Homo sapiens: one gene and its partners. The protein of the gene in region 1 purifies or fractionates together with the protein of each later gene. This does not show direct contact. Each region holds a gene or a part of one and is shown in the gene's direction. Other genes may lie near its edges. The genes, in order: OSBPL5, HADHB, AKAP8L, NPC1, NAGLU, PLD1 and KLHL12.

Region 1 (3,500 bases):
TGCTCTCGTTGTAGTGAGCAAGAGGGCCCGCAGCTCCCCTGACCCCACCACAGAGCCCTGGGGTTCCATGGGAAGCAAGTTTGAAAACCACGACCGTGGTTCCACTTCTTTATTGTGCAGATGGGGAAACTGAGGCTCAGGTGAAAGGATGGCCTGAGTCGTACAGCAGGTTTGGGGTAGAGGCAGGACTTCTGACTGCCTGGTGCCTTCCATGGCTTTCAGCAGGCTGTGTGCAGGTTACACCCAAGGTCCAAGGAGAGTGTGACAAGGTCAGGGTCTCGTGTCCCTTCTCCGAGCTAAGAAGTGGACAGGATTCCCCTGAGGCTGTCCCCCAAGAATGTAAACCACAGGCAAAGCATAGTCCCCGCAAAGCAGAAGTGAGGTGTTGTTCCCAGATGCTAGCAGCAAACCAGGCCAGCAGGCAGCGGGTAGCCCACCCACGCTGCCCCTCCGTCCACATCCCTCACCTGCTCTGCACAGCGGACCTCTTACCCACCTGGCTCCTCACACAAGTCTCTGTTGTCTGCAGGGAATCAAGAAGCCGTACAACCCCATCCTGGGGGAGACCTTCCGCTGCTGCTGGTTCCACCCGCAGACTGACAGCCGCACATTCTACATAGCAGAGCAGGCAAGAGCACCTCTGCTGCAACCGGCCTGGGTGCTGGGCTCTATGGGGCGGGGCTCTGTGGGGGCGGGGCCCTGGCAGCAGGCAGGGGCAAGCGTGACCCCGAGGGCCGGCTTCCAGGGGACCCCACATCCTGCACACCGGAAGGGCTGTGGACCCAGCCGCTGCCAACAGGGATTCTTGCAGAAGGTGCAGACACCACCATGACTGTGACAGCAGACAGTGTCTCCCTAGGGAGAGGACAGTGTGTCCCATCTCCCGATGGGGACTTCTGGGGCAACTCAGGGCCCGCAAGCCCCACAGCTGAGGCCTACCTGCCCTGGGCGTCGTAAGCGAGAGCCAGGAAGGCCCCTACCCGAATCCTGGGATCGGGGGAGAAGATGTGGCGTCAGGGACAGGGACAGGTTTTTTGGGGGAAGCTGGGCTCTCGCTTCCTGGGATTACCTGTTTCCGGGGCTGTTTACAGAGCCGCCTCCCTGCACGCAGGTGTCCCACCACCCGCCCGTGTCTGCCTTCCACGTCAGCAACCGGAAGGACGGCTTCTGCATCAGTGGCAGCATCACAGCCAAGTCCAGGTTTTATGGTGAGGGGGTCACCCTGGGCGCTCCCTGGGGCCTCAGGGAAATGCGATGGTCGGGAGGACTCCGGGAGCCAGTGGACCAAGATCTGGATGGGGGCCATGTGCCTGTCCCTCCCAACCCCTCCTAGTCAGAGACCATGTGGTGGTCAGGTGCTGAGACCCGGCCATGAGGCAGAGCTGCCCGCAGCTCCCCGAGCTGAGAGTGGGCACCTTTTGTAGGGACGCTGTGGGGACTGAGAGAGGGCACCTACATGGAAAGGTGCGGACTGGGGCTGAGCAGCCCCAGAGCACTGCATGACTATTTGAATTGGCTAAAATGAAATGAAACTTAGTCAAAGCATGGTGGCTCACGCCTGTAATCCCAGCACTTTGGGAGGCCGAGGTGGGTGGATCACTTGAGATCAGGAGTTTGAGACCAGACTGTCCAACATGGTGAAACCCTGTCTCTACTAAAAATACAAAAGTTAGCCGGGCATGGTGGCACGTGCCTGTCATCCCAGCTACTGGGAAGGCTGAGGCAGGAGAATCGCTTGAACCCGGGAGGTGGAGGTTGCAGTGAGCCAAGATGGTGCCACTGTACTCCAGCCTGGACGACAGGGTGAGACTCTGTCTCAAAAAAAAAAAAAAAAAAAAAGAAATGAAACTGAAACTGCAGTCCCTCTATTGCCAAATCACACAGGCTCAGTGTTGGCCCCGGAGTGGGACAGGCAGGAGGGAAGCTCTGGTCTTCAGAGACAGCCCCATTGGACTGCACTGCTCTGGGGCCTGGCAGACTTGGGTGCTCAGAAAAGTGTCCGTTTACATTTCGTCCCATCCGTTGTACCTTTTTCATCAGTTTCATCCATGGGCAGGTGTGCGCCTGTTGCCTCTGTGTGCTCGGCTCTCTGCTGGGTGTGTGGAAGTCTGGGAGGGGGTCCCAGGTGCGACCCTCAGGTTCAGCCCACCTTTCCCAACTCTGTCCTCTCCTCACCAGCAGTACCTGCGACTCGTGGCCCCAAGCGAGGCGTACTCCCTCCACAGGGATGTTTAAAATCTGAGCAGGGCTCAGTCGAGTTTGAAAAAGTTTGCAGCCTCCACCCTGCGAATCTGCAGTTTTGCGACTGCAATAAACCACTAACAAGTCAAAGGTGAAATAACTTCTCAGCACAGATGTCCTGTGCACACTGGACAAGGATTTTACAGAATCTGAGGCCCAGAGAGGTTAAGTGACTCACGCACAGACACACCACTGGAAGTGCCAGGAGCGTGTTCAGCTGTTGGAAGGAGCTCAGACCCTGTGACTTAGGGGTGGCCTCAGATGTGAAAGGGCTGTCCGCACTCACTGGTCCTGCTGTCTCTTGTCTCTGCAGGGAACTCGCTGTCGGCGCTGCTGGACGGCAAAGCCACGCTCACCTTCCTGAACCGAGCCGAGGATTACACCCTTACCATGCCCTACGCCCACTGCAAAGGTGAGAGGCTCAGCCACACACTCCGAGGGCAGAGCCAGGCTCTGTGAGAGCAGCTAGATGCTAAAACCCTTTGGTTATTTGCTTGAAGGTATCTTTACTTCGCCTTCATCTGCCCATGACTTTTTTTTTTTTTTTTTTTGAGATGGAGTTTCGCTCTTGTTGCCCAGGCTGGAGTGCAATGGCGTGATCTTGGCTCCAAGTAGCTGGGATTACAGGCATGCGCCACCACGCCTGGCTAATTTTGTATTTTTAGTAGAGACAGGGTTTCACCATGTTGGTCAGGCTGATCTCGAACTCCCGACCTCAGGTGATCCGCCCGCCTCGGCCTCCCAAAGTGCTGGGATTACAGGCATGAGCCACCGCGCCCAGCCTCGCCCATGACTTTTGAAGGTGGGTAATTCCATGTAGATGCTATTTTACTGCCCTTTGAATATGTGCGTTTTGCTTGCCTTGTGGCTTCCATTGCTGTTGGGGATGATCAGCTGTCAGCCTATTTGTTACCTAATCTGCTTTTCCCTGTAGCTGCTTTGAAGATATTTTCCTTGCCTTGGTGCCCTGTAGTCTTGCTACAGTGTTTCAAAGTTTGGATTTCTTTTTTATTTTTTCATTAACAGACTTTCTTTTTTACAGTAGTGTTGTGTTTACAGAAAAATTGAGCAGGAAGTACAGAGAGTTCCTGTGTGTCCCCTACACAGTTTCCCCTGTTATTAACATCTCACACTGAGGTGCTACATTTGGTATCATCGATGAGCCAATACTCATACATTGTTACTAACTGAGTACACAGTTCACCTTCCTTTTCACTCCTTGTGTTGCTCATTCTGTGGGTTTTGCTAAATACAGAAGG
Region 2 (3,500 bases), on another chromosome or scaffold:
CTTAAATATGGATGCAAATTTTGATTTATGTTGTAACAATAGGTTAACATTTTTTAATGTTTCTATAAGAGTGTCCTTTTAAGATCTGAGCACTAATCTCAGCACTTTGGGAGGCTGAGGCAGGAGGATCGCTTGAGGCCAGGAGTTCAAGACCAGCCTGGTCAACAGCGTGAGACTTCATCTCTAATTAAAAAAAAAAAAAAGAAAAACAGAGTCTCCTTTTAGATCTTGCTGATATATTTTAGTTCTTACATACATGCCTGTTTTTAAAATTCCTGAATCGTCTGACTTCTGTATAGAATAGCCAACTGTGAATGAATGTCTTAAGAAAATAGGGTGTCCTATTTTTAGTAAAGCATTTAGATGATTTCCCAATTGTCTTTTAAGACTTTAGTTTAAAATTTGATAATATGATAATTATAAAACACTTTCCTTCTAGTGAATAGGTAAGGTTTATATTTCATTTGTTTTTGTAATTTTTAAAGCATATTTCTGTGGAGAAGATATATAAGGCTTGTGGTTCCATAGAGTTAAAAAAATTCATTTTTTTAATAGGAAAAGATACAGTTACCAAAGATAATGGCATCCGTCCTTCCTCACTGGAGCAGATGGCCAAACTAAAACCTGCATTCATCAAGCCCTACGGCACAGTGACAGCTGCAAATTCTTCTTTCTTGGTAACTGTCAATGTTATTTGTATTTAGTAGTGACTTTTCTATTTCTGTACTCTCTGTAGAAAAGCCTAATATAACTTTTTGTGTGTGTTATGAATAGAGGGTTAAAAATATAGTTATTCATTTTAATGTGAAAGTGGAGTCATTAAAAAAAAAATAGAATCACGGTTTTAAGGCCCGAGAAGTCACCTAATCCAGCCACCATTCTGCCACAAAAGCTCTTCCTTTCAGGCACTTAACCAGTCAAAAACTTCTATTGCTTATGGTGGGCCCTGGAAATGAAAAGAATAGACAATTGCAATATAGTGAGATGCTGTGATGGCTGTAAGGCTTAGGTCGAACCCCTGACCCAGATGGGGGGACAGTCAGAGAGTCTTCTTGGAAGAGGTAACACTTGAGCAGCAAATCTTGAAGGAAGAGTAAAAGCCAACTCAGGAAGGATTTTAAAAGGCATTTCAGGCCGGGTGCGGTGGCTCACGCCTGTAATCCCAGCACTTTGGGAGGTTGAGGCAGGCAGATCACCTGAGGTCAGGAGTTCGAGACCAGCCTGAGCAACATGGAGAAACCCCGTCTCTACTAAAAATACAAAATTAGCCAGATGTGGTGGCACATGCCTGTTAATCCCGGCTACTCGGGAGGCTGAGGCAAGAGAATTGCTTGAACCCTGGAGGCGTGGAGGTTGCGGTGAGCCAAGATCGCACCATTGCACTCCAGCCTGCACAAGAGCGAAACTCCCATCTCAAAAAAAAAAAAAAAAAAAAAAAAAAAAGGCATTTTGGACAAAGGGAATAGCAAATGCAAAATCAAGGAAGTATGAGAGCAAGGGGTTCTTTGGGGAAAAGTTAGGTTGGAGCATAAGGTATGAACTGGGAAGTCGCAGAAGACAAGGAAAAGCAGGCAGAAAGAGTAACAGGATACCTCTTCCAGCCCTGATTGTTAGAAAACTGCTTTACACTGACCCCAATATTATTTTCCTGTAAGCATCATGGAACAAATCTACCACTGTTTGTTTTGTGTTTTTTTTTTAACTTATCAACATGTAGCTTCATATCCTTCCATGCTTTTCTGACTCCTCAATTAAACATCTTTATTGATTCTGCTGCTGCTTGTAAGATGTGATTTCTCTTCTCTTACCACCTTGGGTATAGTCTTCTGGATATAGGCCATCTGGTCAGAGTTTCTCTTACAATGTAACTCTCCTACCTGGCCATAAAGTCTTGAAAACATACGCAGATGTTTGACATATTTGCCCATGGTAAATGACTAATTAATGCCTGCTCTTGATAGGCTAGGGGAGTGGAATCTGGAGTAGTTCCAACAGGATGGAACACCACCCTGTTAAGCCCAGGTGGTGAAGAGCTGGTTAGGTTGGTCATTTGCAAAACCGAATTGGATGATAGAGCCATGTGGCATGGACTACACTTGCCAGATCTGAATCCTTTTGATTATTTCCAGGGTATGCTAAAGGTCCAGGTTTATTTAGTGAGAATCAGAGACACAAATCATCAGAGGTGACACATCACAATACATGGATTTTGGGGACTGCATTAGTGCCCCACATTCATTGCAATTTTGCACAATGGCACATTGAACCTGTTATTAATGTAATGTCTGTAAACCATTTATTCCATATGGTCACCTATGTCTCCAGACTTTATGGACACCCTATTGGTGGCTACACAGTCTCTTCAGGGTTGCCGAGTTATAAAAATACGACAGAATGTGGTAGAACTTATTTTGATTTTACAAATTATGAAGAATAGTTTCCTTTTCTTTGGAATTCTGAAGTTTTTGGGGGAGCTTTTCTTCTTTGAAGTATGGTAAAGGACGTTTTTTCAGTAGTACTTCTTTGTCCTCCAGCTTCTCGGTTGTCATTTGGGAAGAAATGTATGGGGTGTATCCAAAGAGGGAAGATTGTGGTTCTAATGTCCTCAGCTGGTTCTCCCATTGGTTTGCTCGTTACAGAATATATAAGTAGAATAAAATGACCTGTAAGCCACGGGCAGAAAGCAGCTGAGAGCCCAGAAAATGTAAAAATAAATAAATAAGAGATATGTTTATTTTGGTTCATATTTTGTGCCACAAGCTAAAAACTTTGGCTTAAATAAGTGTTTAGTGTTTATTATGAGCAGTTCTTTCTTTTTTTTTTTTTTTTTTTTTGAGACAGAGTCTGGCTTTGTCACCCAGGCTGGAATGCAGTGGCACGATCTCAGCTCACTGCAACCTCCGCCTCCCAGGTTCAAGCAATTCTCCTGCCTCAGCCTCAGCCTCCCAAGTAGCTGGGACTACAGGTGTGTGCCACCACACCTGGCTAAGTTTTTCTATTTTTAGTAGAGATGGGGTTTCACCGCGTTAGCCAGGATGGTCTCAATCACCTGCCTCATGATCTGCCCGCCTCAGCCTCCCAAAGTGCTGGGATTACAGGCATACAGGCATGAGCCACCACGCTTGGCCATGAGCATTTATTTCTAAAGTTACCTCTTCTGTTGATTCATTTTGATTATTATGATACTTTTGAACAGCCTTCTCTACCCTCATCCTCCAAAAATGAGTCAGCGTGTGTATGTTTGAATTATGATTTAATGATGGATACAGTGAAGTAAGTGTTGTTATATAGAATCACTGTATAAGTCTAATGAGTTAATAGATTCAGGTACAGATATATAAGATGGCTGGAGAAAGACCTCCAGACAGGCTGAAGAATTTTAACATTGTGCTGGTTAACATTTCAGACTGATGGTGCATCTGCAATGTTAATCATGGCGGAGGAAAAGGCTCTGGCCATGGGTTATAAGCCGAAGGCATATTTGAGGTAAAGTAAATGTT
Region 3 (3,500 bases), on another chromosome or scaffold:
GGGTGCTGGGGTGCTCAGCCTTGCCCTGTGAGGAGCAGCCTTGGGCGTTGCAGCTCCCACAGATGGTGTACATGTTCCCAAAGGGCTGTGGAGCAGCTCTGCCCCTTGTTGAGACTCACTGGACTAGAGCCTCCACCCCAGTTATCAGTCCTTCAGTCCTTCTTAGGGTCCCCAAGCCAGTGTGTGGCTACATTCAAGTTTGGGGCAGTGGTGCCCCTATATCAGCTGAGAGGCTGGAACTCTTTAATCGGCATTTCTGAACATTGAGCCTCCCAACCAGGGCAGGGTGGGTGCTGGACTGGGAGATTGGGGAGGGCAGGAGCAGTTGCCTGGAGGTGAGGGATCCTGAGGGGCTCCACCTGATGCTCACCCCATGCCTCTGCAGGTATGACTCTTATGAGTCCTGCGACTCGAGGGCCGTCCTGAGTGAGCGCGACCTGTACCGGTCAGGCTATGACTACAGCGAGCTTGACCCTGAGATGGAAATGGCCTATGAGGGCCAATACGATGCCTACCGCGACCAGTTCCGCATGCGTGGCAACGACACCTTCGGTCCCAGGGCACAGGGCTGGGCCCGGGATGCCCGGAGCGGCCGGCCAATGGCCTCAGGCTATGGGCGCATGTGGGAAGACCCCATGGGGGCCCGGGGCCAGTGCATGTCTGGTGCCTCTCGGCTGCCCTCCCTCTTCTCCCAGAACATCATCCCCGAGTACGGCATGTTCCAGGGCATGCGAGGTGGGGGCGCCTTCCCGGGCGGCTCCCGCTTTGGTTTCGGGTTTGGCAATGGCATGAAGCAGATGAGGCGGACCTGGAAGACCTGGACCACAGCCGACTTCCGAGTGAGTGGAGGCAGCCTTCCCCTCTGGGAAGCTTAGTTCCCACTGGGGCGGAGCTAAGGGCCGGGTGCCATGCACCCTGACACGGCTTCCCCCCCTTATGACCCAGACCAAGAAGAAGAAGAGAAAGCAGGGCGGCAGTCCTGATGAGCCAGATAGCAAAGCCACCCGCACGGACTGCTCGGACAACAGCGACTCAGACAATGGTGAGCCCACTAGGTGGTACTGGGCGGCTGCCCCCTGCCTCTGGGAACTCCTGGGTTGAGCTTACCTCCTTTTCCCTTTCAGATGAGGGCACCGAGGGGGAAGCCACAGAGGGCCTTGAAGGCACCGAGGCTGTGGAGAAGGGCTCCAGAGTGGTAAGTGGCTCTGGCTGGGCATTTTCTGTCTGCAGGCAGGGCGAGCTGGCCTAAAGAGTGGTGCTCTCCCTGGGGGCCAGAGGCAATGCTGTGTCAGCTCTGCGTGCATGGTGACCAGCATGGGGAGGCAGTGTGGTCTGGCAGAAAGCACAGGCTGCCTAGCTGGAGGCACAGTTTCCTTGTTGGAAAATGGGATGAGCCCCTGTGCACCAGGTAGTGGGAGGATGTGAGGTTTCTGGCACATAGCCGGGCCTTGTCATTTAAAGCCATTGTAAATAACTGGGCTACTCTGGGCCACCCTGCCTATAGGATAGCCCTGCTCTGTCTATGGAGCAAGCAGCTGTTTTACTATATACCGTTGCTCTAATAAACTTGGTTTCTTTTAAAAAAAAAAAAAAAGGCACCTGTTTTAAAGTTGGAATTTGAAATTGTTAGGACGGAGAGGATGAGGAGGGAAAAGAGGATGGGAGAGAAGAAGGCAAAGAGGATCCAGAGAAGGGTGAGTTTTCCTGGGGTGCCTGGTGCTAGGGCGGCTCTTCCAGGGGCTCACAGTGGGAGGGACCCAGCTGAGGGCAGGGTTGCGGCAGACATGCGGCCAGTTGGGGACCTCCCTTGTGGGCCCGAGTGTGTGCTGGCAGGGGGCTTTCTTTTCGCCGCCTCCACCCCCTTCCCACTCTTCCTCCTCCTTCCCAGGCGGAGGCTGTGGATGGTGGTGACCCCTGCCTAGCACACTGGTTTTGCCTTCAGATGGGGGCAGCTAGTAAAAGTGTGGGGAACCCCAGGCACGCCCCCTGCCCTCGGTCCCTCAGTAACGCGCAGTTCCAAGTCCTCAGTGGCTGGTGTCCGATCTGGGACCCTCGGTGCAGTTTTTACGGCTCTGGTGTGCGTATCCTCTCCCTTAGCACCTCTCCAGCCCCTGTTGGGATTCCGTGTCCCCCCACCTGAGTGATGAGCGCCAGCAGGTACCTAACAGCAAATCCAGCGTCAGCCCACTGTTGCCGCGGTGCCCGGTTGGGGGTGGGCAGGGCCATGTGAGCAGCCTCCCTGCATCCCACCACCTGGCCCCTCTGAACATGTGCCAGTGTCCCCACAAAGATACCCCCTCTTTGCTTTCCAGCCTCCTCCTGGCCCACTGCACAGAGAGCATGGGTGTCCTGGAGAGTGGAGGGGTCATCGCCTGGCCCCCACTCCTTGGGGCCTAGGCCAAACCCACTCCCTGCACAGCCCAGGATACCCAGCCCTGCTCATGGCCAGAGGCCTTGCTTGGACAGCTATTCTCGATGGACCCTCTGGAGTGGACAGTGGGTGATTCAGCCAGAGGCCGCAGGGCCTGCCCTGTCCTGGCAGAGCCAAATTGGTGACAGTGCCCATCTGCTCCCACAGGGGCCCTAACCACCCAGGATGAAAATGGCCAGACCAAGCGCAAGTTGCAGGCAGGCAAGAAGAGTCAGGACAAGCAGAAAAAGCGGCAGCGAGACCGCATGGTGGAAAGGTAACCAGCTTCCCTCCACCCCTCTGCCTCTGCCTCGCTGTGGGGCTGCCGCCAGGAGAGCAGGGCCATAGCTCTGCCAGCTCGCCGCCCTCTGGCCTCCCTTGGGAGCCGCCACCTGCTCGGCCGTGCATGGACCCTGCTTCCCGCCAGGCCCAGCTCCCAAGGCCTGACTCATCCCCTGCCCCTCTGCGGCCGCCTGGCGACCGCTGGCGTCTGTGGGCCGAGACCTGACACCGCTCGGCACCGTTGCTCAGAAGCTCTGGCGCTAGGTCACTCGGCGCACGAACCCCAAGGTGCACTGGGGGCCTGATGCCCCTGAGGGAGGGGGCCAGCTCATCAGAGACTCAAGGTCCAAGGCGCCTGTGCCGCCCCAGCTAGCTGCCAAGAGGCCACCGCCGTGCCCAGGAGAGATGGCAGCACCTGTGGGCTGTGGCAGCCTCGGGCCTGCCTTCTGCCCTGCCCGCCGGCCCTGTCAGGCCGGGCCTGTCTGCGGCTGAGCCCTTCACGCCCCTTGGTCGGGTCTGTCTGCCCTCAGGGCTCCCGCACTGGCGCTTGCCTCCTCCGCCTCAGACTCTTGCTCTTGCTGGACCTTCCTCAGCCTCGCCGGCGCCCGGCCCCTGGGCTCTCCAGACAAAGCTGACCCCGTGGCCCAGATAAGGACGTCCGGCAGAGGTAGGGACCCGCCCCGAGGTCTCGGTGGCGGCTGGCCTCCTCCGCCCCTTGCCACGGCGGCCTGCTCCGGCCCAGGCCCCAGACCCCGGGCTTCTACTGTGGACACCAGGCCCAGACAGAGCACCTCGCCCAGGTGACTCC
Region 4 (4,225 bases), on another chromosome or scaffold:
GAGACAGGGTCTTGCTCTATCACCCAGGCTGGAGTGCAGCAGCATGATCATAGACAACTGTAGCCTCCTGGGCTCAAGCAATCCTCCTGCCTCAGCCTCCTTAGTAGCTGAGACTACAGGTGTGTGCCACTATGCCCAGCTAACTTAAAAAAAATTTTTTTTTTGTATAGAGGGAGTCTTGCTACATTGCCCTGGCTGAGAATTTACATTTCTAACAAGTTCCAAGGAGATGCTCCTGCTGCTGGTCTGGGGATGGCCGTTTGAGGATCCCTGCATGAAGGCATACACAGGACTTGATCCTCAGTGGGGGCACCAGGAGCTGGAGCCTGGGGAGTGGGAAGCGAGAGCACAGAGCTGACTGAGGACCACGAGGTCGTCGTGGAGGACCTAGGCTGAAGGTCCTGAAGAAATCCCCATAGTTTCACTGCCAGGCCAGCCAGGTGGACATCTCAGGGCTGAGGAGGTGAGAAGGCAAGACAGAAAGTGAAACAGCACTTTATAGGATAGGGATGGGAAGGTCATCTGCATCATGGGACTCCTTGGGGAGGGGTTCGGTCATTGCTCCAGATGAAGGTTTAGTCTTTTCATCGTAAATTTGCTTTCACTGTTGGGAAAGAGATCTTCACCTCCATTTTCTTAACTTCAAAATGGAAATGACAGATGCTTTTGAGTGGTCTGAATACTTGAAATTTGAGGGAAAACGTTACCAGAAACACATACAACTAGAGTTAAAGATAAATACATATATCAAACGCATGGCTCAAAAATGACAACGCGTCTTCTTTATCTGCCTTCACGTAGAACTTAAAACAGACCCTGGTCCCCACCTCGGGGTTTCCTCGCGCCCACGGGCTGCGCTGCGCAGCTGGGCCAGCAGGTGGCGAGGCTCCCGCACTTTTTTTCCCGGGCCTGGCCGCACCGCCACCGCCCACCCCGCGCTCCGCCCCGCCCCGCCCCGCCGCACTCGCGGATCGTCACACGGTCAGGCCACCGCGCGTCACCGCCCCGGGCTCTGCTAGAAAGTGCCGGGGTCCAGATTCCTTTCAGGTGACTGGGTTGGGAGGAGAAGTCGCTCAGCGTAATTGTCGGAGCCGAAATAAACAGAGACTCCGCGGCCGGGCGGGACCTTACCCGGAAGTCCCCCAGAACAGCACTACCCTTCGCTGAAACCTCGCCCGCCCCCTCCAACCCAGAGACGAAAAGGGAAAGCATCACGGCCAGAAACCGTTGGCACAACTCCACAGATACTCTCCCGGGCCGAGCCAGACTCCATAAGTCCCGCGCCTGGCCCCCGGGGATTGCAGGGGCTGAGGAGAAGGGCAACACGGGGACCTTGAAGCGGGGTCGCGGCGGCGCCCCAGCCCGGGCCAGGGAGTCCCGGCAGCGGCACCTCCCAGAAAGGGCGGAGCCGACGACGCCTTCTTCCTTCCTGACCGGCGCGCGCAGCCTGCTGCCGCGGTCAGCGCCTGCTCCTGCTCCTCCGCTCCTCCTGCGCGGGGTGCTGAAACAGCCCGGGGAAGTAGAGCCGCCTCCGGGGAGCCCAACCAGCCGAACGCCGCCGGCGTCAGCAGCCTTGCGCGGCCACAGCATGACCGCTCGCGGCCTGGCCCTTGGCCTCCTCCTGCTGCTACTGTGTCCAGCGCAGGTGAGCGGTCGCCGGCCACCGGGACGCCCTGTGGGGACGTGGCGGGGCCGAGAGCCGGGGAAGGCGACGGGCCCAGCGACGGCTCAGGCCCGGGTCCTGGGGAAGTTGGTCTGGCGATGGAGAGCTCGGAGGTTCCTCACTTGTCCTGTTTCTGTCTCCGGCCACGCTCTCTTTCCTGTGGTCTGGAAGAGGGTGGCAGTGGGGGCTTGGGTGACCTGTTCTGAGCTTGTTCCATCTGTGGTCACCTAATTTCTCTGTGTAGGATGTGGCACCAGAAGAAGGGAGGAAAGTGGGTAGAGTGGGATAGGGACACTACTTGCTTTTTAAAAAATTCTGCTACATGCGCACGAACTCCAAAATTTAGGAGCTCTAACCACTTTATTTCCTCTTCTCATCACCTGAGGATGGAGGTGGAAGCAGAGGTAAAGAGACACAAACTTCCTCAAGCACCCGGTGAAACTGCCTTGAGTACTTGACATAAGTCAGCTTGGTCTTCTAAAGAGGGCAGGTTACTTTTCATCAACTCCTTTTTACACCTCAGGACACTGAGACTCACAGGGCGGTATTGAATTTCCCCTTGTCACTATTAGCCAGCGACAGGATGGGGCCTGGAACTCGGTGTCCTGCTGACTCCTTCTGGGGGCTTTTGCTTGGTTTAATAGCTTTGGGAAAGAGCACCTCAGTATTTGTGTGTCTGTAGTTTCCTCTTTTAAAACTGGAGTGGGGCAGTGTCACGCTGTGACTCGTTAAACCAAATCAGGATGAGAGTGCCTCCGGGGAATTGTGTCCTTGTGCACATTAACGCCCCTCACATAGGTGTGGCGTCAATAGGAAGTGGTGAATCAGGGGAGAGGGGGTTCCGTGGACTAGAAAAAACTCTCCTTCGACTTCTATTTAGTTCTCAGAAGGGGATAGGTGATGTTGATCCAATAATGGACTAAGAGCCAGGAGAAGGGCTCCGCGGGAGGATCTCTTGAGCTCAGCAGTTCAAGACCAGCCGGGGCAACATGGTGAAACACCGTCTTAAAAACATTTTGTTTTTCTTTTCATTGTTGAGGTTGAGGCTGCTGTGAGCTGTGATCACGCCGGTGTACTCCAGCCTGGGCAACAGAGCAAGACCCTGTGTCAAAACAAAAAAGAGAGAGAAATAAATAATAGCAATTATGTGCCGTAGAGAAAATGTGGCTATTCTGTTTCCCTAGAGTTTTTTAAAATTTATTTTTAAAATTTATTTATTTTAGAGACAGGTTCTTGCTCTGTTGCCCAGGCGTGGGGGCAGTGTCGCCATCATAGCTCACTGCAGCCTGGAACTCCTGGCCTCAAGCAGTCCTTCCACCTTGGCCTCCCAAAGCACTGGGATTATTGTGAGCACCACTCCTGGCCCCTCCTAGAGTTTTAGATCAGGACCTTAAATAGGCTTCCCTTTTTTTTGGAGACAGAGTCTCTGTTGCCCAGTCTGGAGTGTAGTGGCGCAATCTCGGCTCACTGCAACCTCTGCCTCCTGGATTCAAGCAATTCTGGTGCCTCAGCCTCCCAGGTAGCTAGGATTACAGGTGCCCACCACCACGCCCAGCTAATTTTTGTATTTTCCGTGGAGATGGGGTTTCACCGTGTTGGTCAGGCTGGTCTCGAAATCCTGACCTCTAGCGATCCGCCCTCCTCTTTTGGGGATTACAGGTGTGAGCCACCTCGCCCAGCCAGGCTTCACATTATTAAGTAGCCATCTCTTAAGTATTTTTTAAATCTCAAGTACCCAAGGCTGATGGCCAATGAGTGCTTCTTTTATGACATTTGGGATAGGTCAGAGGTTTGTTGTAAGTCTCTTGCAAAAATGCCTGGAGGCCTTTTCAAGGTCTGTAAACCTTAACTGGAAATAATCCTATTATTATTTTAAAAATTCCTCATGTCTGAAAGCTTTCAGTGCACCTGAACAGATTGGGGTGGAGCCATGAAGCCAAACAGATTGGGAGAGAGAGTGTGTCTGCTTTTAGAATTCGTACCGATGATAGCAGCTCATTAGCTTCAGTCTGAGCGCTAGTAGAGTTCTATCATGGAATTATGGACTAGTTGTCCTGTGTAAGATCTGAAATACATGTTGGGGGGATTTTTGCTTTTTCTTAATGTTCAATATGTACAGATGATGTAATAACATTACTAGACTGCCTTGTTTTTAAAACCCTGTAGTCATCTAAAAACTATATGCAGTTTTGAGACATAGCCTTTATTTTTCCCGGCTGTAATTTTGGTAAGCTTTATCTTGAGGGACTTGGAACATAGAGAAGCCTGGGTAGAAATTAAGCATTAAAATGGCTTTTCCTCAGAAGACTGGGAATGGTTAATCTTTTGACCTGTGAGTGATTAAGAACAACCATCTGAAATTGGAATGACTGTGGGAAATCTTTCCCCATCTTTCCCACTCCTTGACTGATGCTGTGATCAGAAATTTTACTAACATAAGTAATCAAGGGGAAAATGAGATTTTTTTAAATTTGAGCCAGTGGGCAGAGGGAAAAGGACTCGCTGAATAGGCCTTTGTATTCCTCCAGTGTTTGTTATATTACCCAGAACAAAGAATCACTC
Region 5 (2,854 bases), on another chromosome or scaffold:
AATGGGATCTCTACCCACTTCGCTGTAGGGTTTGTAATTATCTCTCGATCTATCTGTGACTTTGCACAGAGTGCTAGCAAATGGCAGCCCTTGGGAGTGGCAGCAGGGGTGCTCCAGTGTCCCTTGTCCCTCCTGTTCCTCTGTGCTTCCCAGCCATCCTCTCACATGTGGTTGGGAAAAGTCTTCAAGGCTCACCTGAGACCTCCCCTCCTTCAGGAAGCCTTGCTAGTGCCCCGCATGACCTCCTTTGCACCTGCTAATGTCTGGCTCCCATACTCTCGTAGGACTTAATGCATGCCAGTGGCCTCCCTGCCCGCCTCTTTGCCCCCATCACCAGGTGGCAGGAAACTCACTCATTCATTCAATAAACTTGGTCCAGCTGTCTGAGGCTGCCAGAACTGGCTGTGCTGGGTCCTGGGAGGCGGCAAGAAAGGTGCCCAAGGGCTTACCCCTGATAGGAGAGATATGTTGGCTGAAGGATACAATGTGGGGACAAGGACAGGAATATATGTGGGTTCCGCTCTCCTCTGCCGGGAGAGAGGGGCAGGAAGGGCTCAGGGCAGAGCCCAGCCTTGAAAAATGAGTGTTGCTTGGACGGACGCTTGGCTAATGCTTGTAATCCTAGCGTTTTGGGAGGCTGAGGCGTATGGATCACCTGCGGTCAGGAGTTAAAGACCAGCCTGGCCAACATGGCGAAACCCCATCTCTACTAAAAGTACAAAAATTAGCCAGGCGTGGTGGCGGGCTCCTGTAATCCCAGCTACTCGGTAGGCTGAGGCATGAGAATCTCTTGAAGCCAGGGGCCAGAGACTGCAGTGAGCCGAGATCACACCACTTCACTCCAGCCTGGGTGACAGAGTGAGACTCCGTCTCAAAAAAAAAAAAAAAAAAAGGAAAGAAAATTAAACACCTCATGTTCTCACTCATAGTGGGAGTTGAACAATGAGAACAACATGGACACAGGAAGGGGAACATCACACACCGGGGCCTTTCGCGGTGTGGGGGTCAAGGGGAGGAGTAGCATTGGGACAGATACTTAATGCATGCGGGGCTGAAAACCTAGATGATGGGTTGATGGGTGCAGCAAACCACCATGGCACATGTATACCTATGCAACAAACCTGCATGTTCTGCACAGAACTGAACTGAAAGTATAATTAAAAAAAAAAAAAAAAGCTGGGTGCGGTGGCCCACACCTGTAATCCCAGCACTTTGGGAGGCCGAGACGGGCGGATCACAAGGTCAGCAGATCGAGACCATCCTGGCTAACACAGTGAAACTCAGTCTCTACTAAAAATACAAAAAATTAGCCGGGTGTGGTGGCGGGCACCTGTAGTCCCAGCTACTAGGGAGGCTGAGGCAGGAGAATGGCATGAACCTGGGAGGCAGAGCTTGCAGTGAGCTGAGAATGCGCCACTGCACTCCAGCCTGGGGGACAGAGTGAGACTCTGCCTCAAAAAAAAAAAAAAAAAGAAAGAAAAAGGAGCGTTGCTTGTTTCAGGCCACAGGAAGGGGAGAGATAGTGAAAGTTTTTCAGAGAAGGTGGCCAGGGAAGGAGAAGAAAGGACTGTAGGCAGAGAGCATAGCCTGTACAAAGCCATAGAGGCAAGAGAAACCAGGAGCTGTAGAGAAGTTGGCAAGGCTGTTGAACACTATGGTGAACACTATGGCGGCTTCCATGAAATATCTGAGCTTTTGCTCCCCACTAGGGTGTTCCCTCAGGTCAATGTCACGAAGATGGGCAGTTGGGGCCACTTTAACTGTTCCTACTCCTGCTCCTTCCTTCTGGCTCCGGAAGACCCCATATTCCCCATCATCGGGAGCCTCTTCCTGCGAGAGCTGATCAAAGAGTTTGGCACAGACCACATCTATGGGGCCGACACTTTCAATGAGATGCAGCCACCTTCCTCAGAGCCCTCCTACCTTGCCGCAGCCACCACTGCCGTCTATGAGGCCATGACTGCAGGTACAGTGCCTGGGTGGGGTGGGAGAGCCCCCCAGACCCTCAAAAAGAAGGGAGTAGCAGATGTCAGTAGGGGTAGGCAGAGGGACTGGAATAATGCCTCGCCATAACACACAGTACTTCATAGTTTACCAAGCACGTGTACACATGCGTTGTCTCAGTGAATCCCACTGTGGTTGAGAGGTGAGCTCTGGAAGCCAACAACCTGGGTCACACCTCGCGCTCCTATTTCCTGGCCGTGTGACTTATGACTCATGACCTCCTTCCCAGTGTCTCGTTTGCTTTTCCTGTAAACTGGGACTACCTCATAGGTAGAATAACGCCTGGCCCAGAGCAAAGGCCACTAAGAGCTAGCTATGAACAAGGATTTTGTTTCATCTCTGCGTGGTTGCTGAAGTAGGCACTGCAGGCAGGAGGTGAGTGGATGTGCCTAAAGGCACTAAGTGCGCATCCTGCTACAAAACTGTGAAGCCAGGGCTCCTTCCTGCCACTTAAAGGAGGAGTGGAGCAGAGGGCGCCCAAGTCAGGAATGACTTAGTGGAGAGGCGTCTGTGTTGGCCAGGAAGGGAACAGATCAGCTCAGCCTTTCTTGAGCAGTACTGCTCCAAGTGTGACCCAAAACCAGCAGCAGCAGCAGCAGCAGCCCGAGCTGTGAGATGGCAAATTCTCAGGCCCTACCCAAGACCTGAAGGAGAAGCTACATTTTTTTTTTTTTTGAGACAGATTTCACTCTGTTGCTGAGGCTGGAGCACAGTGGCACAATCTCATCTCACTGCAACCTTCGTCTCCTAGGTTCAAGCGATTCTCCTGCCTCAGCCTCCCGAGTAGCTGGGACTATAGGCACCCGCCACCACGCCCGGCAATTTTTGTTTGTTTTGAGATAGAGTCTCG
Region 6 (3,500 bases), on another chromosome or scaffold:
TCCAGTGATCTGGTAGGTGGTGGAAATAAGTTACTCAACTGCCTGAGAAGGTCAAATTTCATTGTTTAATGATGAATCTTGTTGTAGCCCTAACTGCCCACTAAAAGTAAACTTGTAAGGACTGTAAAACCTTGTTAGCCCACAGCCTGTAATAGAATGGACAGATGCCACCCTAGTTGTGTCTTAAGAAATTAAGAAGCTTTTAGGTGTTTAATAAATGAGAGTTGAGCCTCCCTTTCTGGGACTCACCTGAACCACAGTCTCTGAGGGGGTCTTGCTGCATTCACAGATACCGGGTCCATCCGTAGTTTACAGACAGGTGTGGGAGAGCTGCATGGGGAAACCAGATTCTGGCATGGAAAGGACTACTGCAATTTCGTCTTCAAAGACTGGGTTCAACTTGATAAACCTTTTGCTGGTGAGTATCATAATGGTGGGGTGCTGGTTATATTTTGTCTTTTACCTTTGAACATCTCAGCAAGTATACATGTGCATGATCTAAATGCCTTTTGTTTTGCTTCCGTTGATTTTTGAAAATTTTTTAAAACTTTGGAGACTAGATTTAGTCATTAGCATGTGCTTAAGGACTTTTTTTTCAGTTATAATAAGAAAAGAACATGAAATAGAGCTGAACTGTCTGAAAAATCCAGATTTTTATAGGCATATTTTGGGGGCAATAATCAGTAATTTTTCAGGAAATGGTAGGCTCCCTTTGATCATCTTCTATTCTGCTTATTTCCTGCATTTCCAGCGTTAGAATGGCATATTTTCAGGTTATCACTGGGTTTATATGTTTAAGAGGAGATAGAGATGGCATTGCCTGCCATTGTTTCAACAGGATAAAAAATAAAAAATATAATATCAAATACACAGCCTTAGATAATTTGTACCAACTCACATCTTGCCATGTCTAGTGATTATCTAATCCTAAGTGAAACGGAAACATATGTGGGGAAGTGCCTGGGAGACTATGTCCCTGAATGTGAAATCTGTTTCCCTTGATTATAAAAATGTTGTTCTATGCAAGCCAAGAAATATATACCTAGTGGGCACTAACCCACGTTTCCTTTTAGTTTCATAGTTGGAGTCAGAGAGACTTTGCCCCAACACTGAAGTTAATGACTGATCCTTGCCTGGTGCACCCGGGCAGATTTCATTGACAGGTACTCCACGCCCCGGATGCCCTGGCATGACATTGCCTCTGCAGTCCACGGGAAGGCGGCTCGTGATGTGGCACGTCACTTCATCCAGCGCTGGAACTTCACAAAAGTACTTGGATGTTGCTATCATGATTTATCCACATGAAGAGAGGCAGGCCTAACTAGAGAAGAGGTTTAGAGGAGGCTGGTAGCAAGAAGAGACTGTTGTGGCCACAACTGTGTCACTGCTCTGCTGTTGGCTGCATTGATGTCCGGGTGCCTGGGCATCTGGGCAAAAAAAAAGGGAAACATTCCCGAATGTCCACACCATAGACAATTCAGAGTGCCTAGGGACAGGTGCTGCTGTGTGGGTCCTGATTTTAACCTTGTTAACATCTTGGACACAGTGTTGACTAAGCATTTAGTAGCCTGGGCTCGGTAGTCATTTGCAGGGCTGTTATAGGGGGATAGGAGCCTGGTTTAGATGAGAGGGCTTGAGCTTTAAAGTCCCATCCAGTTGGATGGGACTGGAATTGCACTGGGTTTATATTGGTACAGGATTCTGAGAGCTGGTTCTGAGCAAACCAAGAAGTATTAAGAAGGTGGGGCCATTTTCCTTTTATCCAGATTGTGTCCTCATTACTTGTAAGAACTTGACATAACATTCAAACCTAACATTCATAAGTTAAGTACGTATCATTCAGGCCAGGCACGGTGGCCCACGACTGTAATCCTGGCACTTTGGGAGGCCTAGGCTGGTGGATCACCTGAGGTCAGGAGTTCGAGACCAGCCTGACCAACATGGTGAAAACCTGTCTCTACTAAAATACAAAAATTAGCTGGGCATGGTGGTGGGTGCCTGTAATCTCAACTGCTCTGGAGGCTGAGGCAGGAAAATCACTTGAATCCAGGAGGCGGAGTTTGCAGTGAGCTGAGAGGACTCCATTGTACTCCAGCCTAGGCAACAGAGCGAGACTCTGTCTCAAAAAAAAAAAAAAAAAGTACATATTCAGGTGTTATTAAAGTTTCACTTTATTTACTTGAAGGGATAATGAGTCATGATTCCCCTTGGTCGTTTGGAAAAAGAATTTAGTTTTATCAACCACTTAGAGTCTAACTTTGTTTTTCATTCACATAATGATTATAAAAATTTAGTGGACATTCTAATTGAAATTTTTTAACAAAAATTTAGGGGAGATGGATGAATAAACAAATGGGGTGTTACTTTTAACCTGCTATACTGGCAAAGATAAAAGTCTCTGCTGATACCTGTAGTTAGGTTTGGGGTGGTTTTTGTGGTGTGCTCATACATGCTACCCCAGGGAGGATAAATTTGTACAACACCAATAAGTCTTTTTTAAAGTATGCAATCTTTGATCCAGAAAAACTATTTCCGGGTATTCAAACTAAAGCCATAATCCAATAAGGTAATTTATTTTGATATGGCTTCTAATAATTCAAATAAAATTAGAAATAACAGAAATCCTTACTAATAGGAATTTATTAAACAAATGATTCTTTTATACCATTTTACTATGAAGTTATTAAAAATAATGATATCCCACTATATTGCTGTGACAAGATATCTAGAACATAATCAGTAAAAAATTAGTTTATAAAACAATAGTCTCATTTTTGCAATTATAAAGTTCTGTAACTACAGATTATATTTAACCTGTCTTTACAAATATAAAACAATATTTCCCCTACAAAAGGTAAAAACAGGACTGTGAGAAGTAGAAAACAAACACAAATAATCTGTAGCCCTTCACTTAGAAATGTCCACCATTAACATTTTTCTTTTTCTTTTTCAAATTAACCTGAATTTCTTTTCTTTTCTTTTTCTTTTTTTTTTTTTTTTTTTTGAGATGGAGATTCACTCTTGTCACCCAGGCTGTAGTGCAATGATGAAATCTCGACTCACTGCAACCTCTGCCTCCGAGGTTCAAGTGATTCTCCTGCCTCAGCCTCCCGAGTAGCTGGGATTACAGGCGCCCGCCACCATGCTTGGCTAATTTTTGTATTTTTAGTAGAGATGGGGGTTTCACCGTGTTGGCCAGGCTGATCTCGAACTCCTGACCTCAAGTGATCCCCGCTTCTTGGCCTCCCAAAGTGCTGGGATTACAGGCGTGAGCCACTGCACCTGGGCATGAATTTCTTTTATAATCACAAAGTAGGGAGAATGAATCTTTTTTCTCATTTGAATATTTTATCCTTTTTCTTTATTTTAGATTATGAAATCAAAATATCGGTCCCTTTCTTATCCTTTTCTGCTTCCAAAGTCTCAAACAACAGCCCATGAGTTGAGATATCAAGTGCCTGGGTCTGTCCATGCTAACGTACAGGTAAGTAAGTTCTGGC
Region 7 (2,807 bases), on another chromosome or scaffold:
AGCCTGGGTGATAGTGAGATCCCAACTCAGAAAAAAAAAGTTTGTATCTGTCTCCCTCAGCATGTCTCTCAGTGCTGAATGAACAATAGTAATTTCTGAGAAAACATGGAAATCCAACCCTCCTACCTTTTAAGGTTCTTATAATAAATCCTCATCCTTTGATTAGCAATGTGGGAATACTTTTCTACTTTATGGAAGGATATCAGTCTCTTAGCCCAGTGCCTTATGGAAGAGAAAGGAGTCAGATATTGGATAACAGAAAGCTGTTAAATCTTTTGGAAGCCTTGGAAAGAGGCAGAGATGCAGAAAGCTTGTATCTTTAAGAGCACCACAACAGGCATTTCGTTCAGTAGGTAGCTATTTGGGAGCCACTTGAGGATGAACCACTTAAGGAGGGTTCATGATGACAGGTGAAGAAGCAGAGAGGTGTGCAGATACAACAGGGAAGATAGCAAAAGGTAAGGCCCAAAACTTGCCTAACTGAAATGCTCTGTACCTCTTCTCTCCAAATCCATAGAGCATCACTCGTAAGAGACGTTATGTGGCCTCAGTGTCCCTTCATGACCGGATCTACGTCATTGGTGGCTATGATGGCCGTTCCCGCCTTAGTTCAGTGGAATGTCTAGACTACACAGCAGATGAGGATGGGGTCTGGTATTCTGTGGCCCCTATGAATGTCCGACGAGGTCTTGCTGGAGCCACCACCCTGGGAGGTAGGCTGGATGTGCAGGGCAATTATTTCCATCTTACTGTGGCTGGACCAGGGTTTTTAACCTCTCCTGTTGTCTGGCAGGAGCATGAAATACGGAGAAAAAATTAAGGTCAAATGTTATTATTATTTGAGACAGGGTCTCTCTCTGTTGCCCAGGCTGGAGTGCAGTGGTGTGATCACGGCTCACTGCAGCCTCAACCTCCCCAAGCTCAAGCGATCCTCCCACCTCAGCTTCCTGAGTAGCTGGGACTACAGGCATGCACCACCATGCCCAGCTATATTTTTGTATTTTTAGTAGAGATGGGGTTTCGCCATGTTGCCCAGGCTGATCTCTAACTCCTGAGCTCAAGTGATTGACCCACCTCGGCCTCCCAAGGTGCTGGGATTACAGGTGTGAGCCACTGTGCCCAGCCGACAAATACTCCTTTTTGCTTTCAGAAATATCAGTGTAATAGAAGCTGTTCAATATTCATGGATGTTTCATTATTGACTACAAAGTTGGCAAATCAAGTTCCAATGTGCTGGGTGGGGAACTGGCACTAGTTGTGTTTTTGCAAACTCCTAGGTGGTCTTTGAATGCTTTTAAGGATTTTGTTTTACCCCATTCTTTTTAGATGTCTTCCTTGTCTATAAAACTTAATTGACTTATCTCATTTAAAAATACTTTGTTTTTGCTCTCAGACTTTTAAAGGACCCTTGGAAAATTTGTAGAGGAAAGAGTTCTTAGAAATCTCTCATTCTCTAATAGTCTGTAATTTGTTTATTCTGAGCAGATATGATCTATGTCTCTGGAGGCTTTGATGGAAGCAGGCGTCACACCAGTATGGAGCGCTATGATCCAAACATTGACCAGTGGAGCATGCTGGGAGATATGCAGACAGCCCGGGAAGGTGCCGGACTCGTAGTGGCCAGTGGAGTGATCTACTGTCTAGGTATTGAGTCTGGGATGCAGGAATGGGAGGGAACTCAATGGGTAATGGGCTGTGGGTAAGGATTCCTTTTTACCAAAATGACGTTCATAGACTTCCCTTCAACTAAAACCCTGGTGTGTCTTAATATATTTTCCATTAATTGGGATTATCTTTTTCTTATAAGCATAATGTCAGATTTCTCTTAGAGTTATTGGAACTCTTGTGGGAAAATTGAAACTAAAATAATTAGTTGAAGCACTCAGAAAAAAACCGACCAGGAATGGGCATGAGGATTTACCACTCTTTCTGGAATGGTCTCTGTCTTCCAGGAGGATATGACGGCTTGAATATCTTAAATTCAGTTGAGAAATACGACCCTCATACAGGACATTGGACTAATGTTACACCAATGGCCACCAAGCGTTCTGGTAAGACCAGATCTGAGGGAGGGGACAATAGGCGATGCTGTCAGACCTTTACATATATAATGGTGGTGCATGGGACAAACCGTAGATTAATGTAAAAATGAGATTCTGCTCTCCTCCTTGTCTCTGTTTTCTCTAAATACTAGGATAAAGACAGTTGATACTTACAACTAGATTATAAATTTGAAAGCAAAAGCCTTCATGTCTTTGTTCTCTCCCTACGTTTTAGAATATCTAGTACAATTTTGCCTGTGTAGTACATGCTTAATAAATATCTGTTAAATAAAGTCTCTAATGCATAAGGACAAAAGAGTAGCTACTTACCTTCACCAAGAGCTTTTTGAAGTGGAGCAGGCTGGGATATAGAAAAGGAGAGAGCACTGTGCTGTTCTAGTTTACTTACTCTGGGTAAAAATTGCTTCAGAACCATAATCACAACTCCTTTCCCTCCATCTACCTTTATTGCCACCTTTTTTTCACTTCCTCCCTTTCTCCTAATTAGAAGGGTTGGGCTCTGAGTTAATGAAAGTAAAGAAGAGAACCATTTTTATTATTTATCTTTTATCATTTCAAGTCCAAGCCAAAGGGTTTATAGATGGAATAACTTGTGCTGGACTAGATTATTCTAGGCCCGTGTGGGCCCATTCCATATCCCTCATCTACTGTAGAACTCAGCTAGTCATTAGTGACCGTAGTTTATTTCTATAATTCAGATTCTAGGCTTAGTACCATACATTTGCTAATGCATTCATTTTCCCC

Evidence for each region.
Region 2: the proteins of OSBPL5 (region 1) and HADHB purify together in Homo sapiens (co-immunoprecipitation; one large-scale study listed by IntAct). This does not show direct contact.
Region 3: the proteins of OSBPL5 (region 1) and AKAP8L purify together in Homo sapiens (tandem affinity purification; one large-scale study listed by IntAct). This does not show direct contact.
Region 4: the proteins of OSBPL5 (region 1) and NPC1 purify together in Homo sapiens (affinity purification with western blotting, with the first as the bait; one study listed by BioGRID). This does not show direct contact.
Region 5: the proteins of OSBPL5 (region 1) and NAGLU purify together in Homo sapiens (co-immunoprecipitation; 3 studies listed by BioGRID and IntAct, with this or other methods). This does not show direct contact.
Region 6: the proteins of OSBPL5 (region 1) and PLD1 purify together in Homo sapiens (affinity purification with mass spectrometry; 2 studies listed by BioGRID and IntAct, with this or other methods). This does not show direct contact.
Region 7: the proteins of OSBPL5 (region 1) and KLHL12 purify together in Homo sapiens (co-immunoprecipitation; one large-scale study listed by IntAct). This does not show direct contact.

What each region holds. Positions count from the first base shown.
Region 1 is NC_000011.10:3,099,311-3,102,810, reverse strand, and holds part of OSBPL5 (oxysterol-binding protein-related protein 5), read left to right. Parts: intron 1-529; coding exon 530-628; intron 629-1,111; coding exon 1,112-1,208; intron 1,209-2,554; coding exon 2,555-2,653; intron 2,654-3,500. UniProt on the Homo sapiens protein: Lipid transporter involved in lipid countertransport between the endoplasmic reticulum and the plasma membrane: specifically exchanges phosphatidylserine with phosphatidylinositol 4-phosphate (PI4P), delivering phosphatidylserine to the plasma membrane in exchange for PI4P, which is degraded by the SAC1/SACM1L phosphatase in the endoplasmic reticulum.
Region 2 is NC_000002.12:26,279,439-26,282,938, forward strand, and holds part of HADHB (trifunctional enzyme subunit beta, mitochondrial isoform 1 precursor), read left to right. Parts: intron 1-555; coding exon 556-677; intron 678-3,406; coding exon 3,407-3,486; intron 3,487-3,500. UniProt on the Homo sapiens protein: Mitochondrial trifunctional enzyme catalyzes the last three of the four reactions of the mitochondrial beta-oxidation pathway.
Region 3 is NC_000019.10:15,398,489-15,401,988, reverse strand, and holds part of AKAP8L (A-kinase anchor protein 8-like), read left to right. Parts: intron 1-385; coding exon 386-839; intron 840-945; coding exon 946-1,042; intron 1,043-1,124; coding exon 1,125-1,195; intron 1,196-1,630; coding exon 1,631-1,694; intron 1,695-2,578; coding exon 2,579-2,687; intron 2,688-3,222; exon of another isoform or gene 3,223-3,359; intron 3,360-3,500. UniProt on the Homo sapiens protein: Could play a role in constitutive transport element (CTE)-mediated gene expression by association with DHX9. Increases CTE-dependent nuclear unspliced mRNA export.
Region 4 is NC_000018.10:23,583,707-23,587,931, reverse strand, and holds the start of NPC1 (NPC intracellular cholesterol transporter 1 precursor), read left to right. Parts: upstream 1-1,425; 5' UTR 1,426-1,588; coding exon 1,589-1,645; intron 1,646-4,225. UniProt on the Homo sapiens protein: Intracellular cholesterol transporter which acts in concert with NPC2 and plays an important role in the egress of cholesterol from the endosomal/lysosomal compartment.
Region 5 is NC_000017.11:42,539,241-42,542,094, forward strand, and holds part of NAGLU (alpha-N-acetylglucosaminidase precursor), read left to right. Parts: intron 1-1,709; coding exon 1,710-1,966; intron 1,967-2,854. UniProt on the Homo sapiens protein: Involved in the degradation of heparan sulfate.
Region 6 is NC_000003.12:171,674,484-171,677,983, reverse strand, and holds part of PLD1 (phospholipase D1), read left to right. Parts: intron 1-289; coding exon 290-418; intron 419-1,150; coding exon 1,151-1,269; intron 1,270-3,370; coding exon 3,371-3,484; intron 3,485-3,500. UniProt on the Homo sapiens protein: Function as phospholipase selective for phosphatidylcholine. Implicated as a critical step in numerous cellular pathways, including signal transduction, membrane trafficking, and the regulation of mitosis.
Region 7 is NC_000001.11:202,893,428-202,896,234, reverse strand, and holds part of KLHL12 (kelch-like protein 12), read left to right. Parts: intron 1-517; coding exon 518-713; intron 714-1,485; coding exon 1,486-1,644; intron 1,645-1,952; coding exon 1,953-2,051; intron 2,052-2,807. UniProt on the Homo sapiens protein: Substrate-specific adapter of a BCR (BTB-CUL3-RBX1) E3 ubiquitin ligase complex that acts as a negative regulator of Wnt signaling pathway and ER-Golgi transport.